Linked DNA regions of Homo sapiens: region 1 is linked to region 2. Evidence: fine-mapped expression QTL. A gene starts in region 2. The other region holds a variant in brackets. All regions are shown on one strand. Distances are from middle to middle. Region 1 overlaps USH1C (USH1 protein network component harmonin). Region 2 holds the start of USH1C (USH1 protein network component harmonin).

The links. PIP is the estimated chance that this variant, and not a neighbour inherited with it, causes the effect. A credible set is the group of variants that fine-mapping cannot tell apart.
Region 1: its variant is the best candidate, but not a certain one, in a credible set for the expression of USH1C in lung (TOPMed, PIP 0.59).

What each region holds. Positions count from the first base shown.
Region 1 is chr11:17,508,212-17,512,598 of GRCh38, reverse strand. It overlaps USH1C (USH1 protein network component harmonin), which reads left to right. Exons shown (of 27, transcript NM_153676.4): 16 at 545-697; 17 at 2,078-2,194; 18 at 2,761-3,243. Among named protein-coding and RNA genes, the nearest start is that of ABCC8, 34 kb to the right of the region's middle. The variant C/A (reference allele first, on the strand shown) is at 2,697.
Region 2 is chr11:17,541,766-17,546,152 of GRCh38, reverse strand. It overlaps USH1C (USH1 protein network component harmonin), which reads left to right and starts at 1,737. Exons shown (of 27, transcript NM_153676.4): 1 at 1,737-1,881. The coding sequence starts at 1,846.

The sequences.
Region 1 (4,387 bases), 34 kb after region 2:
GCTTGCCAGCCCTCCCAGATTTTCTCTGGAATCTCCCAGGATGCATCTCTGAATCTGAACATGAGATGATGCAGAAGGCATGTGCCAGATACTGGAAAATCAGCACAATGCCCTTTATTTATATGGCACTTATTTATTTTTTTATTTTATTTTTTATTTATACAGAACTTTTACAAAGTTCTTTCATGGATGTTATTTCATTGGCACTGGGTGGCAAGCCTGTGGGGGAGGTATTTTTACCATTTTGGAGATGAGGCAAATCAGGCCCAGAGAGGTTAAGGAACTTAGCCAAGGCCACACAGCTAGTTAGTGAACTAATAAGCCAGTCTTTCTGGCTGGTAAAGAGAATGTGTCTCCCACTCTGCAGTAGGTAGCAGTGGCCTTCCTGTCCTAAACCTGAGGTCTGATGTCCAGAGTGGTGAGAGAGCTGGGGGAGGGGCTCACCATGGGATGGTTGTGTTATGTGAGGACTGGATGCCCCGTGTGCTGTGCTGTCGACACTATTTCTAACCTTTGTCATATAAACAATGCCACATCTACTCAGAAAGGAAAAGATAAGAAGAAAGCCAAGTATGGCAGCCTGCAGGACTTGAGAAAGAATAAGAAAGAACTGGAGTTTGAGCAAAAGCTTTACAAAGAGAAAGAGGAAATGCTGGAGAAGGAAAAGCAGCTAAAGATCAACCGGCTGGCCCAGGAGGTATGTGTCCTGCCTGCAGGCCAGGCAAGCAACCCTGGGACACAATGTGGTCGTTCTCCATGTGCTCCCAGAGGACCAGCTGGAGTTGTTCTCCTCAAATGGCATACAAGGGTGGAGTGAGCCCTTTCCTGCTCCCCAGCCTGGAGAGAGAGATCATGCCACCTGCCCAGGGCCATCTGAGGTTAGCTCCTGGCTTAGGAATTGAAACTAATCTCCTTGCTTGGGGGTGTGAGTCTTGCTCCTGGCTTTGGAATTGAAACTAGCCTCCTTGGTCGGGGGGTGTGAGTCTGAGGTTAGCCTTTCTGACCAGATGGTAGGTCTCAGGTTAGCCTTTGATACACCTGGCTTAGAGATTTGAGTCTGTCCTCTTCACTCTACCCCACCAGAGTCTAAGGCTGGGCCTCTCCATCTCAGGTGTGGCTCTGAGGCTACTTAGAGTATGGTCTGCGGCTAACCCTTCTGCCTTGCTTGTAGCTTTGAAGTTAGGCTTCCACTGACCTGTCTACGAGTCTGAATCACTCTGGCCTCCCTTCCCAGGTTATTGTAAGACCAGACCCCCCCCCACCCAACTTAGCTTGGCTCTGAGAATATGGGTCTGAGGCTAACCCCCTTATGCAGGTGGTAGGTGCGAGGTTATCTCCCAATTAATCAGGCTATCAGTCTAAGGCTGCTCCCCTCAACATAGGGTGTGTCTAAGGCTAGACCTCATCAACCTGGGAATATATCTGAGGCTGTCCCCATGAAGACATGTCCAAAGCAACCTTACACCATGAATAATTCCTATGCTAGGTGAGATGGGTAACCTTAACTCCCCAGCTGTAGGAGGTATCATTGTTTCTGCTTCTCTTTAACGCATCCATGAATCAGAATGCCAATTTGATTAGATTATAAAACCAGAGAAGTCCTGGAAAATGTGAAATGCATTAGGTCTGACATTATGAACAAATTAGCCACAAAATTAAAAATAAGATTGAACTTATGCTTCTGAGGGCAAGGCAGAATGGAGCAGGAAAAAAAAGAGTCAAGTTAAACTCTTGGAATGTGCTGGGGGAGGCTACAAAAACTCCATTCTTGGAAAATCATAAGAGCCTCAGGGTTCATGGGGATCTGGGATCCAGCTAATCCCTCACAATACATAAGCCCCTTTTCTGATTTTGCCTACAAGTTCTGCTTAGTGAATTTGACACCCCGCCACTCTCTTCTCCCTTGCTGCTGCCTCCTTGAGGGCCAGTTGGAACAAGCCCAGGTCTCTTTCTAGATAGCTGATGCACCTCACAGTACTCTGGAGTTTCTAAAGGAGTGCTTTCATGCTATTTCTATCCACATGTTATTCAAATGTGCCCTTTGTCCTCTCCTTTCTGCGCCGATCCTGGGTCCCAGGTGTCTGAGACAGAGCGGGAAGACCTTGAAGAATCGGAAAAGATTCAATATTGGGTGGAGAGGCTCTGTCAAACGCGCCTCGAGCAGATTTCCTCTGCTGATAATGAGATTTCAGAGGTAACAGAGCCCTTCTTTCCACATAGACCCTCCTGCTGTCTTCAGAATGACCCACTGTGGGGACAGCGGGAGGTGAGATGACAACTAGCAAACGTCACTAGCCTCACAGTGCCCATCCACTGTCCAGGCCCACCCCTACCACCCCACTCCCCTCTTGAGGAGGAGGGATATGTCTGTATTTCTGGGTATACTCCCAGAGTGATCTCTAAGTCCCAGCTCATCTGCGATAGTCTCAGTTAGGCCTGTTGTCCTGGCATCATGACTAAGAGTCCCCCTTACACTCTCAAGGGCATTCCAGTTTAGAGAATGAACTCTGTGAACACCTTACCACCCACAGATGGCATAACTTGGGGCTCTTCTGCATTTGGGCACTCCCTAACAGCAGCCTAGTATGGCCTCAGCTGGGCATCCAGGTGGCAGAGGAATGGCGCCCCATGGTTCTGATGTAAGGGTGGTGGGTCTCCAGTAGCAAGAGAAACAGATTAGAAGAGCATAGTGCTCG[C/A]TGTATTGTGAAGTGGAGCTCTAAGCAGAGTGACAATTACAGAACTTCCTTGCAACACCCCCAGATGACCACAGGGCCCCCGCCTCCCCCGCCTTCTGTGTCTCCCCTGGCCCCACCCTTGAGACGCTTCGCAGGCGGACTGCACCTGCACACCACTGACCTGGACGACATCCCTTTGGACATGTTCTACTATCCCCCCAAGACTCCCTCTGCCTTGCCTGTGATGCCCCACCCTCCACCCTCCAACCCACCCCACAAGGTCCCGGCGCCCCCTGTCCTTCCCTTATCTGGCCATGTGAGCGCCTCATCCTCTCCATGGGTGCAGCGCACTCCACCCCCCATTCCCATCCCTCCCCCGCCATCCGTTCCCACCCAAGACCTCACTCCCACCCGCCCACTGCCCTCGGCGCTGGAAGAAGCACTGAGCAACCATCCCTTCCGCACTGGGGACACAGGCAATCCAGTGGAGGACTGGGAGGCAAAGAACCACAGTGGGAAGCCCACTAACTCCCCTGTCCCTGAACAGAGCTTCCCACCCACCCCAAAGGTAATGTCCCTGTTCTGCATGCTATGTTTGGAAGTAGGAAGAGTGGGGAGAACTGCTGTTTCCCATGTCCTCCACTGCTCCTGAGAGTGGAGACAGAAAGAAACATCATCTCACCCCATTTTCCAGGAATGCCCCCTCCGTGTGCATGTGTGGACATCCTGCATGTATATGGTGGTTCTCACTGATTTTGAAGTGCTGTATTGTATGGTGAATGGCCTGGGACCTTTGGGGTAAGCAACGGTGTGTCCATTTGATATTCATTGCTCTCTCTTAGCTCTTCTTTGCTAGTGTAGGCTGGTAACTTTCAATGTAGGACTTGGAAGTCTATGTTAATGAATAGCCAGCACTCTGTCACATCCAGTCACTTCCTGATATTATCCCAGAAAGCCTTGAATATGGGAAATGGCTCCTGATTTAACGGGAAAAAAAGGGAGGGGAGGAGGAAGCAGGGGCGTATTTGGCTCTGTAAATGAAGTGATAACACTGTACCATCAAATGCAGTATTAGGACATTCCAGTGCCATTTTCTACAGTACTGGCCAACTGCACTGGCTTGAAGTGTAATACCCAGAAATTTCTGGCCAATTTCCAGCTATAGAAAAAATGAAGATGAGAGAGTTCCTAGAAATAATTTACTATTAAAAGAATAGGAATGTTTTTCTTGGATGTTAGGAAGATGAACAGTGTCTTTCTGAAAAAGACATATTTCTTATTAATTATTCGTAATCCAAAGACTATTTTGAAACATGCAATCTCTGAGGAAGACAGGGAGCTTGGATCCCATGAAGGGAAAAACAAAATATTATTCCACTCCCGTAGCCATGAGGCCAGGCTTGAGTCAGTGCAAAGGCATCTCATGTCAGCTGAGGGTAGCAGGGGTTGCTGAGGGAGGGCATAGTCAATAGCACCTGACCAGTGGTTTTTATTAACCTTCCCTGCATGGATTTGAGTTCCTGCGTGGAGAGCAGGACAAGCATCTCAGAGCACTCAGGAGAGCTTACAAGGAAGGTGGGAGTGAAGAAAGTGCCAGATGCCAGCAAGGCTGAAGCTTCCAGCGGGAGACTCTCAGAGGGACCCTTTCTGGACCTCTGGTTGGGGTCGTGAGCCCTGCAGCTTTGACAGGAAGAAATCTGCCTGTTCTCGGG
Region 2 (4,387 bases):
GGGGGCATTTTAAGGTGGAGGGAGTCTGTGGGGGTAATGGCCAATGTAAAATAAGGATTGGTGTGGCAGGTGAACAGCATTCCCCTGGATAAGGACATTCATTCACCTCTGCCAGGATTCTAAATACAAAATAAACAGCCATATGACATTCTTTTCCAATGTAGAGAATCAATGAAGTAAGTCGGAGGGGAATGCATTTTGTGTGGCCTTTTCTGGACCATTCAAAAATCCCACAAGTCTTTCCATTTTATCGCTGACTTAATAGTTAATGCTAAGGTGAGAAAACAGATCATATTTTAAGGTTCTTCTCCAAGAGGGATTTACATCTTAAACTAGGCAACAAAAATAGTGTGCTTGTAAAACTTCAGCTATTGGGGAGAGGGACGCAGAGGGGTGTTTAGGTGCCCCAGAGTTACAATTGTAAGTGGTTACCTGATGTAAGCTGCTGTCCATCTCCTTGCCCCTGCCCTTGACAGGGCACAAAGGGCTCAGGTGCCTCCCTGGGTTAAGTTCAGGCACAAGCCCCATACTTAGCCTCTGATTTACACATTTTTATCACCCCTCTCCTAGCCCCTCTTTCCTTTCATCTCTTTCCAGGCCTGGTTCATCATTGTCTTTGATGAATCTTTCCTTTCATTCCTTTCCAGGCCTGGTTCATCATTGTCTTTGCACCAAGCACTAGACCTAGGAGTTAAGCAAATGCTGACCAAATTGAATTAAATGAACCAGAGGGTCTGGGCCCTGGGTGAAGGTCAGCCATAGATCAAAATGTCACTGCCAGGCTCTGCCAGGCTTCGATGGATATGTGAGTGTGTTGGGTTTGGGTTTTGTTTTGTCTTGTTTTGTTGGGGGTGGAGGTGTTAGGGAAGGTGGGAGGGGAAATCAGTTGAGGGGGGCACTCTCACACACACTGATTCAGACCCCTGCGGCCCACAGTAAAACCCAGCCCTGTCCCCAAGGAATTCACAGAACAAGGATTGATTTCTCCCTGGTGGAAAAGTGCAGGAGGAAGCCAGGACTGAAGGTACGCTGGAGGTGAGGGCGTAGCAAGGGCTGACAGTCCAGGAGGGCCATGAACCTCGACAAGAGTATCCAGAGAAGGCCGGGCGCGGTGGCCCGCGCCTGTAATCCCAGCACTTTGGGAGGCCGAGGTGGGCAGATCACGAGGTCAGGAGATCGAGACCTTCCTGGCGAACACGGTGAAACCCCGTCTCTACTAAAAATACAAAAAAAAAAAATTAGCCGGGCGTGGTGGCGGGCGCCTGTAGTCCCAGCTACTCGGGAGGCTGAGGCAGGAGAATGGCGTGAACCCGGGAGGCGGAGCTTGCAGTGAGCCAAGATCATGCCACTGCACTGTAGCCTGGGCGACAGAGCGAGACTCCGTCTCGGGGGGGAAAAAAAAAGAATATCCAGAGAAAACGGACTAGATTGCCCCGCCCCCCGCCCGTGTAAATAGTTTCCGTATCTCTCTATTCCGGTCCCCACAAAAAAGTCCCAAACCTCCTCCCTACGTCTCCACGATCTTCTTCCTCAAACGCATGTGTTCAGGTACCACTTCCAGAGAAATACCAGCTTGAAGCCCAGCTACTGCCACCTCAGGCCCATAGGCACACTGGGGCCCATTTGCTCCCAGGCTTCAGTGGGAGGCGACGACTCAGCACCTTCGACTCCAGCCTCGCAGCGGCCCCGCCCCACAGAGGCCTGGCCCCGCCCCTCCGCGCTCAGGCCCCGCCCCCAGCTCCGAGGGCGGCTGGCCCGGTCGCGGTCGCGGCTCTTTCCAGCTCCTGGCAGCCGGGCACCCGAAGGAACGGGTCGTGCAACGACGCAGCTGGACCTGGCCCAGCCATGGACCGAAAAGTGGCCCGAGAATTCCGGCATAAGGTCAGAGCTGCAGGGCGCCCCAGGCTTCTGGGACTCCGGAGTCCTGGGCGCGGTGGGTAGGGGGTGGACACCCCGGCACTGCCCCTCCCTTTTCCGGCCCCACCTGATGGCTCTGGTTGGGCTGGGACACCCGAGGGTCGTCTGGCTGGCAGCAGGGATCCCCAGTAAAGTGAGGGAGGGAATGCGGGGACTCCCGGCTCAAGGACTGCTAAACGAGTCGATCTTCTGCCAGCCTTTCTCCCTCTGCCTTCCAGGGGCAGGGACGTCTCTGGGGTTTGAATTCCTTCCAGTCTTGGCCGCTTTTCTGAGGTGCCCCCTTTGTGGGCAAGCCCCTCTCCTTCCTAGTGCCCCCAGCTCAGGGCTGTTGAGGCATGTGGAGACAGTCTGGGGCAGTATCTGAGAGGTGAGGGTTGGGAGAAGGGAAACTAGACGTCTCTCTCTCTGCCTTTTGACCTCAGAACATGAGTTAGAAGCATTTCAGCCCTGCCTGCCTAAGGGCGTTTCTTAGGGTCTGAGAAGTAGCTGAGGAGCTGGTGCTGACCCGGGTGCGGTGGGGAGGAAGGGAGGAGGTACTGAGGGCGTCGGAGCTGGGCTCTGGCCGGCCAGATCCTTCAGGCAGAGCCGGGTCCACCCTGGTGTGTCCCAGTGAGGGGCCTCACTGGTGGTCTGGGATTCTCAAGGACCATCTCTGGAAGTGGCCAGGTTTCACACAGGGCATTTCGAGAATGATTCACAAAGCTGTGCAGAATCTGCTGAGGCCCTGAGACCAGAGAGGGCCATCAAAGAGATCCAGCCTACTTCCCCACCAAGTCTTAGGATGCCTCTGAGTCTGGGGATGAAGCCGCTTGGGGGGGGTGGGTGGTATCTGGAGCTCCCCACAGGCCCTGCCTGAGGGGCAGGTAACTATTGATAACTTAACTATTGATAACTGTGTGACCCAAGGCTCTCCCAAAGACCCCAGGGGCAGTGTCTTTAGACCAAGCCAAACCTCTTCCTGGTTTGAGAGCTGAGCTCAGGTAGGGCAGGTCAGGGTGCTTAACTCCTTCCTTCCCATAAAGAGGCCCATAGGAGCCCAAGGAGCTAGCCAGTGTAGGGGCCACAGGGGCTTGGGGCCAAGGGCCCGGGGTCAGTTATTCATTTAATAAGCATGTTTTGAGCATCCTCTCAGCCATACCCAGTCTGTGCCCTTTGCTGGTGGTGTAGGTGGGAGGCAGACCCTACCCTGGTAATTACCCATGTCTGAGTGCTGCGTGTTGAGGCCAAGCTTTTGTAGGGGCACAAAGGGACAGCTCAAACTGGCAGAAGGCTCCTGAAAACAAGGTCTTGGGCATTTCTGGTCCTGCTCCCAGGGGTGGGTGATAGCTGGAAGTTCAGCAGGAATTTAGGGGCTGGCGAATACCAAGGGGAGCTTGAGAGAGCATTCACTGTTACATCCTGTTGCAAAGAGACATGTCGGAAGAAATTTCAGCCACTAAGGACATTTTGTGAGTGTAGATTTCAGGCAACCCAGTTTGAAGGAGCTCAGCCTTCCATCCCCCAACCCAAGACTCAGGGTTGAATTTCAGTTTCCTGCCCCTGGCCTGAAATAACATCAGGTCTTCTGCCTTCACTCTGTGGGGTACCTGCTCTCTCTTTTTTGTGAGAATCATCTCCAGGGTCCCTGGTGTCTGATGCAGATCCTGGGTTTGCCCTGTTCCTCTTCCCCAGGTCCCACAGGCTCCAAAGGGCCTCAGACCTCCACGTTTCCTCTGCCCTACTCTTCCTCATCGCAACAGTCATTACTTATTAATATCCCTGTGTGCAGGCAGGGCAGGCGCCATGCGCTAGGCAAGGCCCAGGCTGGACTTTGTGCCCTGCTGCCTTGGAGACAGCCACAGCCTTCCCCTCCCAGGTTGGGGATCATCCAGGAACTGGGGAGAGAGGATGAAGCACAGAGGATAGAAAGGAGGCACACAGACATGCTGGGAGAAATTTACAGCTTGCTGTTGTTTGCTTTGTAGGGGTCCCTTCCTTAGTGTTTTGGAAGAAATGGTTTGTGATCTAAATCCTTAGTTGTTGGAAGTAATATTTAAGGTAGTGTGTTATAATGGAAAGTGCTCTGTGACCTTGAGCAAGTTACTTAATCTCTCTGTGCCTCAGTGCTCTTACTTGTGAAAAGAGATAACAATATTTAACGAATAAGGTTACCATGAATGCTGAATGAGACCTACATGTGTGTGGGGAGCTTAAATAGACCCTGGCACTTAGGGAGCTCTCAAGAAATGTCCATGTTGATTATTATCTGGAGTTAGCAGAACTGGGACCAAATCTTAGCCCTGTCACTGTCAGGAAGACCTTGACCAAGCCACCCACTCTCCCTGAGTTTTAGTTTCTTCAGCTATGAGATGGAGTTTGTAGAACTTACCTCACAAGACAGTCAAAACTAACTAGCAATTAAAGTACTGGCTGCTCTGGGCCCACAGTAACCACACTGTTTCCAGCTGATACCTGCAGAGTGTCCAGTGGG